Linked DNA regions of Homo sapiens: region 2 is linked to region 1. Evidence: fine-mapped expression QTL. A gene starts in region 1. The other region holds a variant in brackets. All regions are shown on one strand. Distances are between the middles of the regions.

What was found. PIP is the estimated chance that this variant, and not a neighbour inherited with it, causes the effect.
Region 2: its variant is the best candidate, but not a certain one, in a credible set for the expression of ANXA3 in pituitary (GTEx, PIP 0.66).

What each region holds. Positions count from the first base shown.
Region 1 is chr4:78,549,718-78,554,113 of GRCh38, forward strand. It overlaps ANXA3 (annexin A3), which reads left to right and starts at 2,053. Exons shown (of 13, transcript NM_005139.3): 1 at 2,053-2,142. RefSeq lists enhancers at 2,418-3,169, 2,473-3,672.
Region 2 is chr4:78,587,533-78,591,928 of GRCh38, forward strand. ANXA3 (annexin A3) reads left to right here. Exons shown (of 13, transcript NM_005139.3): 7 at 4,012-4,091. Among named protein-coding and RNA genes, the nearest start is that of ANXA3, 38 kb to the left of the region's middle. The variant T/C (reference allele first, on the strand shown) is at 2,287.

The DNA.
Region 1 (4,396 bases):
AATCAAAGAAGTTAAATCCTGAATGGTTTAAACAATTAAAATAAAGCCTACATGTAAAACATCACCTGTTACTCATTTTCTTCTGGCTATAAATCTAGCCCTATGACTTCCTAGTTGCCTGGAATACAACTCGTAGAACTTACTGAGTCCCTCTGAGCCTGTGTCTGTATCTGCAAAATAGAGGCAATCATACCTAATTTACAGCTAGTTGGTAAGCATGACATAGATCACGTACGTCAAGTGCATTACCCAGTGTCTGGCACAAATAATAATAAATATTTTCCCCCATTTCATGCTAATCTCAGAATTTTTTGAGGTAACATGGGATTTAACAGTTTATTGTGGTGAAGTCTGAATGGGAGTCAGGAATTACTATGCAGAACAGAATGCAGAACACCATCCTATCTTCTCTCTTGCAGAAAGCCCATCACTTCGGATTTGTAGATCTGAGAGGGCTCCCAGGGCACTGGCCTTTTAAGCATGACCACTTCTGCCTTCTCCGTTGTAGCTCCTCTTAAACCAGTGGTTCTCAAACTTTAGGATGCATCAGAATCACTTGATGGCGCAGGGTTTCAGGGAATTTGCATTTCTAATGAGTTTCTAGGTCCCAGGACTCAGCCTTAAGGACCAAGACTGTAATCTCTTCAACTCACACTCAAGCAGCTCCAGCCATGCTTATCCTCTAAAAATCCTCTGTGCTCCACCTGTTCACCCTACCTCCTCTCAACTCCTAGAAACCAGTGATTTTTTTTACTGTCTCCGTAGTGTTGCCTTTTCTGGAATGTCATATAGTTGGAATCATAGTGTGTAGCATTTTCAAATGGGCTTCTTTCTCTTAATAATATGCATTTAAGTTTCTTCCATGTGTTTTTATAGCTTGATAGCTAATTTCTTTTCAGTGCTGAATAAAATTCTATTGTATAGATGTATCACAGTTTATTTATCCATTCACCTACGAATTACATCTTGGTTGCTTCCGACTTTTGATACTTAGGAGTAAAGCTACTATAAACATCCATGTGCAGGTGTTTGTGGAGGTAAGTTTTCAAATCCTTCGGGTGAATACATAAGGGGCCCAGTGATGACTGAGTGCAAGCAATACTTTTTACTTACGTGGTCTCGGATAAATCACTTCACTTTTCTAAGCCTCAGTTTTCTCTTCTGCAAATTGTGATAAAAATAGCACCTCCTAGAGTTCCCTTGAAGATAAAAGAGGTAAGGTATTCAAGCACTTCAATGCCTGATACTCAATACATGGTAACTTTTTCTACATCCTTCAGCACACAACTGCTCATAATTCCCTCATACGAGTAGGGCTTTAACCTTTTAGCCTCGATGATTTGTTTTGCTCTTCCAAATGCCTAGAATGCCCTTCCAGGTTACCGTCTCCCTGAGCCTTTGGTTGGAATCCTCATACCAGAGGGTCAACACGTTTAGTAGAGGAATTACTGAAATAGTTGGGTTCCAAACACTAGCTCTGGCATTTACCTTCTGTGTAAATTGGCTGAAGTTACCCAACGTCTCTGTATCTCAATTTCCTCATCTATAAAATGGGGATAATAGTATCTACCTCATAGAGTTGTTGTCGGAGCCATTTTAATGGCAAAAACCGCAATTACTTTTGCACCAACCTAATAAATCCGCGCATATTCTTAAAGAAGTTAGAACAGTGCCTGGTACAAAGTAAATGCCAGATCAATGTTATTAATGTTAGGTGTCCGCCACCTATGCCACGCAGTGAGTTCCTTAGGTATAGGGACAGTCTAATCTCCGAATCCACACTGCCTAGAACAAAATAAGCATTGCAGTACATTTGAGAAAGTAAAGGTGTAGTGGAAACCGAGAGCGAAATGAGGGCGTAGGGAGAAAAGGGTGGGGAAGCTTAGAGACCGGTGAGGGAGCAGAGCTGGGGCGCCTGTGTACAGGGATAGAGCCCGGCGGCAGCAGGGCGCGGCTTCCCTTTCCCGGGGCCTGGGGCCGCAATCAGGTGGAGTCGAGAGGCCGGAGGAGGGGCAGGAGGAAGGGGTGCGGTCGCGATCCGGACCCGGAGCCAGCGCGGAGCACCTGCGCCCGCGGCTGACACCTTCGCTCGCAGTTTGTTCGCAGTTTACTCGCACACCAGTTTCCCCCACCGCGCTTTGGGTAAGTTCAGCCTCCCGGCGCGTCCCCGCGAGCCTCGCCCACAGCCGCCTGCTGACGGGTGGCTTGGGGAGGTCGCGGCGCCTCGCCCAGTTCCCCCGCGAGTGCAGCTCGACCCTGGGCAGGGCTGGCGGCTGGCGCCCGCGCCCGGCCCCAACCCAGCTGCGTGGGTGGGGAGCTGGAGGGACCTCAGTCCTGCATTTCAGAGTCGAGGAGACTGGGCCCACGGGGGGGAAAGTGCCGTGCCATGGGTGGGTCACCCAGGTCTTGGTGGGGCCCAAGCTGATACTCAGCTGTCCTCGCTCCCTGAAAGCTTCGCTTATTACAGCTAGCAGCGTAAGGGATCCACTTAGCCATCTCGGCCTCCCCAGTCCTAAAGGTCTAGGGGACAGAAAAAAGCTGGGAGTCGGAAGGTTCCTCGGGTCCCCGGCATGGCAGACGGGGCTGGCTCAGAGGTCTGCTCTGTGGACTTGGAATCGCACCCATCCTGTGAGCATCTTCTCCCCCTCACATAGGCAATTTATTTTATTTTACTTATTTTTTTTAGAAGGTAGAAAACAGTGGATTTGCATATTGAGGGTTGGAAGTTCAAGAAGTTTGCTTTTTCCTGAAAAGACTAACCGTTTTCTTTGCAACAGAATCCTATTGACTAGATATGAATCATTCCCTTGGTATTTGAGTCACCAGGTGGAAGATTTGGATACTTGATTGCAGATGACCATATATAGGAAAGTATGCAGGTGCTGGGAGGTTCTGGGTCGCTGGAGGCCCCTCTGGCTACTGATACGAAATTGCATAGCCCAGGCCGAATTCTTTCCAAGGATTTGTGTTCAGCACTGACAGCAAGACCCTGCCCTCCGGGAAAGATACATTTACTATGTTCACCAACATCATTTTTTAAAATGTAACTAATTAAAACGTTACTCCATGAAGATACCACCTTTGGTTTTCACGAAGACGGAAAACTTCAGACTGACCAGAAAGGGAATTTTTAAATGTAAAGAAAACCAGAATCTTGTTCCCAGAACTCTGTGGTTGTGTAGAGAAACCTGTTTAGAAATAACCGTAGAGGAGGAAGTAAAAGGAAATGATGTAATCCCTTTCAGGAAAGGATATATTGAAATTCTGTTTAAGTCATTTGGCCTTCGCTGTGGAGTAATTCTTTACATCTTAAAAGTTAAATGATAGATTAGTAATAATTCTTAATAATTTTCCAGTTCTGCTGGATCAATGCATATTAAGTGTCAGATTTGGTCAGGTGTGGGCCAGGCAGCAGATTAAGGCAGAAGCATGGGGGTTAGGTTCATACCTTTAGAGTCTAGCTGCCTAGATGCAGTAGGGGTCCACTCACTAGCTGTGTGACTGTGGGACATTACCATACCTCTCTGGGCTCCAGCTTCTTCATATGCAAAACGAAGATGTAATACCTAACTCACTGGATGATTGTGCGGCTTGTATTAAATCATTCATTTAATCAATAAGTTTTTTTTTTAAATATCTACCGTGCACCAGTGCACACAGATAAGAAGAATCTCCAGCCCTGTGAAACTGACCTCGTTCAATGCTGGCAACACCCCCTTCTTCACTTTTTACAGATGAGGAAATTGAGGCCCAAAGAAATTGTGTTTAGCTTTAAGAGGCAAAATGAGAACCAATAATGCCTTGTTTTCACTGTACAGATGGTTTGACTTCTGATTTTTAGACTTCAGAATAGTTTATCTGGCTGTAACCCCTCATAAGTCAAAGAGCATGTATTTAGAGAGATGCAGTATTAGACTCTAACTGGAGAGTTGACTGCCCTAGGCTACAGAGAGCCTGAAAAAACCAAGGTGAAATATTTCCAGAGACTAATAGTGTAATTTCCCATTGAACTTTTCTCTGGGGGTGTCAGGGAATTTTTAGAATATTTTGTTCCCAGGAAGGGTGGGAGCAACTTGCATTTCTAAATCAACCCTGGAGATATGCCAGCATGTTTGAATAATATCTATTTAAGAAAAATGTGTCTGGCTTCCCAATCAAAGAACTGTGCCTTTCACCTCTGCACCCCACCAAGGACTGGACCACCTCCTCAAAGAGCAGATGTGTCTTTATAACAGACTGTAGGCTTGGAGCCTTGTAAAATGTACATGGAGTTTCACAATCAAGCACAAGGAATCCAACTGAAGGCAGCTAAACTTTGTGTTGATTTGGTGAGGAGGAGTAAAATCCTGTGTTTTTGTTGTTATTGATCCCCGTAGTGGTAGCCTGTCAGTAATCA
Region 2 (4,396 bases), 38 kb after region 1:
CAAGTACTTTAAGGGAGCCACAGTTTCTCTGTTTGTGTCTCACAGAGGTCAGTTGTGTCATAGCAGCTTTTGCAGTGGGAGAGGTCCAAAGAAGGAGTACATATTGGTCCTCATGTAGGTGTTAAAGAGGATGCTTTGGGAGATTCTTGTTAGAAGGTAAATACCTCAATGTCAGGTGACTGTTTTGTTATTGATGTACCAATTGGGTTCTAATCAGAAAAACAGAAACAGCACTAGGTATTTTGACAGATAGAATGTAATATAAAGAACTGCTTAAAGGGCCGGGTGCGGTGACTCACGCCTGTAATCACAGCACTTGGGGAGGCTGAGGTCAGCGGATCACAAGGTCAGGAGTTCGAGACCAGCCTGGCCAATATGGTGAAATCCCATCTCTACTAAAAAATACAAAAAAAGTTAGATGGTCATGGTGGCGTGCACCTGTAGTCCCAGCTACTCAGGAGGCTGAGGCAGGAGAATTGCTTGAACCCAGGAGGCAGAGGTTACAGTGAGCCGAGATGGTGCCACTGCACTCCAGCCTGGGCAACAGAATGAGATTCCATCTCAAAAGAATTGCTTAAGCTGGGCACAGTGGCTCATGCCTGTAATCCTGGCATTTTGGGAGGCTGAGGTGGGCAGATTGCGTGAGCCAAGGAGTTTAAGACCAGCCCAGGCAACATGACAAAACCCCGTCTCTATAAAAAATACCAAAAATTGGCCAGGTGTGGTGGTGCACGCCTACAGTCCCAGCTCCTCAGGAGGCTCAAGTGGGAGGATCACTTGAGTCTAAGAGATTGAGGCCACAGTAAGCCTTGATCATGCCACTGCACTCCAGCCTGCGTGACAGAGTGAGACCTTGTCTTGGAAAAAAAAGAAGAATTGCTAAACACCTTTCAGAGGACTGAAAAAGCAAAAAGGGAACAAAAGGATTCATGCAGGTTATAACCCCCCAGACCTGAGACAACAAAGGAAAGAGGTTGAGGCTATCAGAAACTGGAAGCTAGAATGAGGGACATACCTGGCTGATGTCGGGACCTCAGGGGCTCAGAGCAGAGGCTTAAGGAGCAGGAGTTCAGATCTCTGAAAAGAGGGCTCCATCTGTAGGTACTGGAGCCAGTACCTACACGGGGGTCAAAGTGACTTTTTCTAGGAAGCTGGAGCCAGTTGCTGCTGTCGGGGTGAACAGCCTTCCCTGGGTTGACACTGACATGACTAGCCGTCAGATAGCTTGCACTTCTTTCCACCTCCTGCCTTCCAGTCCCCTCTACTCCCCAGTACTGGTGGAACCTAATAGGGAGCGGGTACAGACAGAAGTAGACAAGAGAATTGCTTAATCATTAATGCACAAAAGAGTATGTTTTAGGTGTTTAAAATATTTCAGTTCAACAAGGTTTACATATTTTACAAAACCCATCAGAACCAGGCACTGTTTCCCAAGTTGGCTTGGTATTTTCTGGTGTTTCTTAGAAGAGCCACTGCTCCCCAAGTGGACCTGCCCTGTGACAGATCCCTGGAGCCCAGCATTTAGGTACAAACAGTTCCAGGATGTGAGCTTTATGAGGATGAGGATTTTCGTCTATGTTGTTCACTGCTGTATCCTCAGTTCTAAGAACAGTGGGGCAGATAAGTGCAAATATTTATTAAATGAGTGTCCTCAAAATTGAGGTTAAGGTCTTAAGAGCCAAGTGAAACTTTTACCATTCAGGATAGTGTTGTGCAGATATGACAGATGATAATAGCACAAAGTTACCAGAGCCTCAATTTCTATGTGAGTAATGCTCTCTGAGGCTACAAAGGATACAACTGCATCAAGGTTACCTTGGTTACTAGAGATTAATGATACACAAGAAGATCAAGAAGGAAATTGTCTCAATCATGCATAGCCAAACTTTACAGAGATTAAAGTCACAGCACTACCCGAGGGACCCAGTTATGTTGTCACTCTCTCGGCAGCAGGCATCCATTGCTCCCCATGCTAATGTTTTCCGTGACAGTAACTGCTCCTCTTCCTTTTTGCTTCTAATGTTCTTGACACCAGCAAGTAACATCCCCTCCCCTACCACATGGTGTTTGTCTACCCAAGGCTTATAAATATTTGTGCATAGCTTTTGGTTATTCTTGGCTACTGTTTTCTTCATTATTTCCAGGAGTCTTTTGGTTCTTTGTTATTCTATTGTCTTTGTCTCCTTTTCTGTGTCACTCGCTCCCTAAGAGAGAAGATACAATGGGTTCAGGAAGTCACTATCATGTTGGCCCTCATAAAGGGACCAGATGTCTTCTACAGCTTAT[T/C]CAGTACAGTGGCACAATAGAGTCTAAATAAAGAGAGATCTAAATTCTTAACTTTTTTCGGTATTCTAAAGTCAATGGTGTGTGAGAGAGAGAACACTGAAACAGGGATCAGGGACTCAAAGTTCTAGTCCAGGCACCTGTACTATTAAAATATTCTATTTGATTTTATACTCTACTGTGCCTCAAAATGGATAAAGTAGTTGTCAACTTAGGTTGAAATAATTTTTTACTCTAATATCCCACAAAATATTTGAAGGAAAGGGAGAGGCTGTGTGAAATGACTTATAAAGTCTCATCTAAATAATTCCAAAATTACAAAATACTTCCCCAAGTTCTAAGAAATGGGATATTCATTCTTCTACTTGATATTTTCAAATTTAAAGTTTTTTATCTAACTAGAATGAAGGATAGATGTAACAATATCACAACCATTAGGTTTAATGATGCCTACTAAATATTATTATTTAGAAAAATAACACACTTTTTTGGTGGATTTTGCTTATATGAATTGCTTTGAAAAGTTACAGATTTCATAAAAAAGAGACTTACTAAAATCATGCTGAAGAAGTTTCCATCTCAGCGCAGTTCTTGCTATTGGATAATCTCATATCACTTTCTATAATTGTCTTTCATTGATTTAAATAGATGAGAATTCTCATGGCTAGTATGGCTAATTTATAGAATTCTTGAGAATGGTGCAGACAGTTCAGATAGCCACATGGTGTCACCTACAACAAAGGGTATAGTGGCTCCAAGAGAATCACCACCCCATGGATGGGGCAGACAGAGATTTAAGACTGATGGGCACTGCACATCACAGGCCATGCAAAAGGGGCTACAACTAGTCAGTACTAAAATATATGAACACACAGTTGGCATTTGTAAAGGGAAATGGCATGTTTTGGGTAGCTTTCTTACTTTTGGGAGATACGAAAAAATATGGTTTAATTATATTCATTAAGATTAGGGTTAGATTCGATAAAACAGAAAAATTACAGTGGCTTACAAAAGGTAGAAGTTTATTTCTATCATATGTAGAAGTCTAGACATTGGCAATTCTAAGTCTAGTATGACAGCTACTCAAAGCTTTTAGGAACTCAGACTTCTTCTTGATTACTTTTATGCCATCACTAAGAAGTGGTCCTTATCTTCACAGTCCAAGATGGCTGCCCAAGATGCAGATATCAGTTCACATGTAAGGCAGTTGGATGGAGGAAGGACTAAGATGAACATGGCCTCATCCCTTTAAGGAGATTTGTCTGCCTTCATTTCATTGTGAATAACTAAGTTATAGAACTGTACTAGCTAAGAGGAAAGCTGAGAAAGTAGTTTTTAAGCTGTGTACATTATATCTTGCTTAAGGTTAGGGTTCTCTTAGTATGGAAGATGGCCAGAATGGAAATTGAAAGGCACACTAGTAGCTCATCCACCCCAGCTTTTCCACTATGCATCCCTTAGTGCCATTGTCAGATGAAATAAACCAAGATTTGCTCCAGAATGACAACTCTTTCTATTCTTTTGCATCTACCACAACACAGTGCAGTAAGAGTTACAAGAAGAATGTACCATCTCACAACAGAAAAGCATGAAGAAATTAAATAAAAGGGCAAGATTTATCTTATCACATACCCATTCTTTGCTAGTGTTGGCATTTAAACTTTTCTCTGTTTTATAATCATATTTTTCAGTTTGTCAAGGCTTAATTTCATTCTGATTTGGTTTCAGTATACAAGAAGAGTCTTGGAGATGACATTAGTTCCGAAACATCTGGTGACTTCCGGAAAGCTCTGTTGACTTTGGCAGATGTAAGGTTTTATTTTTTATTTTTTAACTCCCCAGTAAGCTGCATGCTCAATAACAATTTTTAGGGAGTTTAAAAATAACCAAACTGAGACAATGAGTTCACAATTTTCCTTATGAAATGGTTTGTTCATTTTACATTTTCATTGCCACCAAGCAATATAATGTTTAACCAAGATCATAAAAGCATACATAATGATGTAACAACAAAGAAAACTTATTTGAGTCAGTAAGTGGAGGTGTTTTGGTCAGGTTTCACAATTTTGACATTAGAAGACATTCTGATACATCATCTGACATACAATATTTA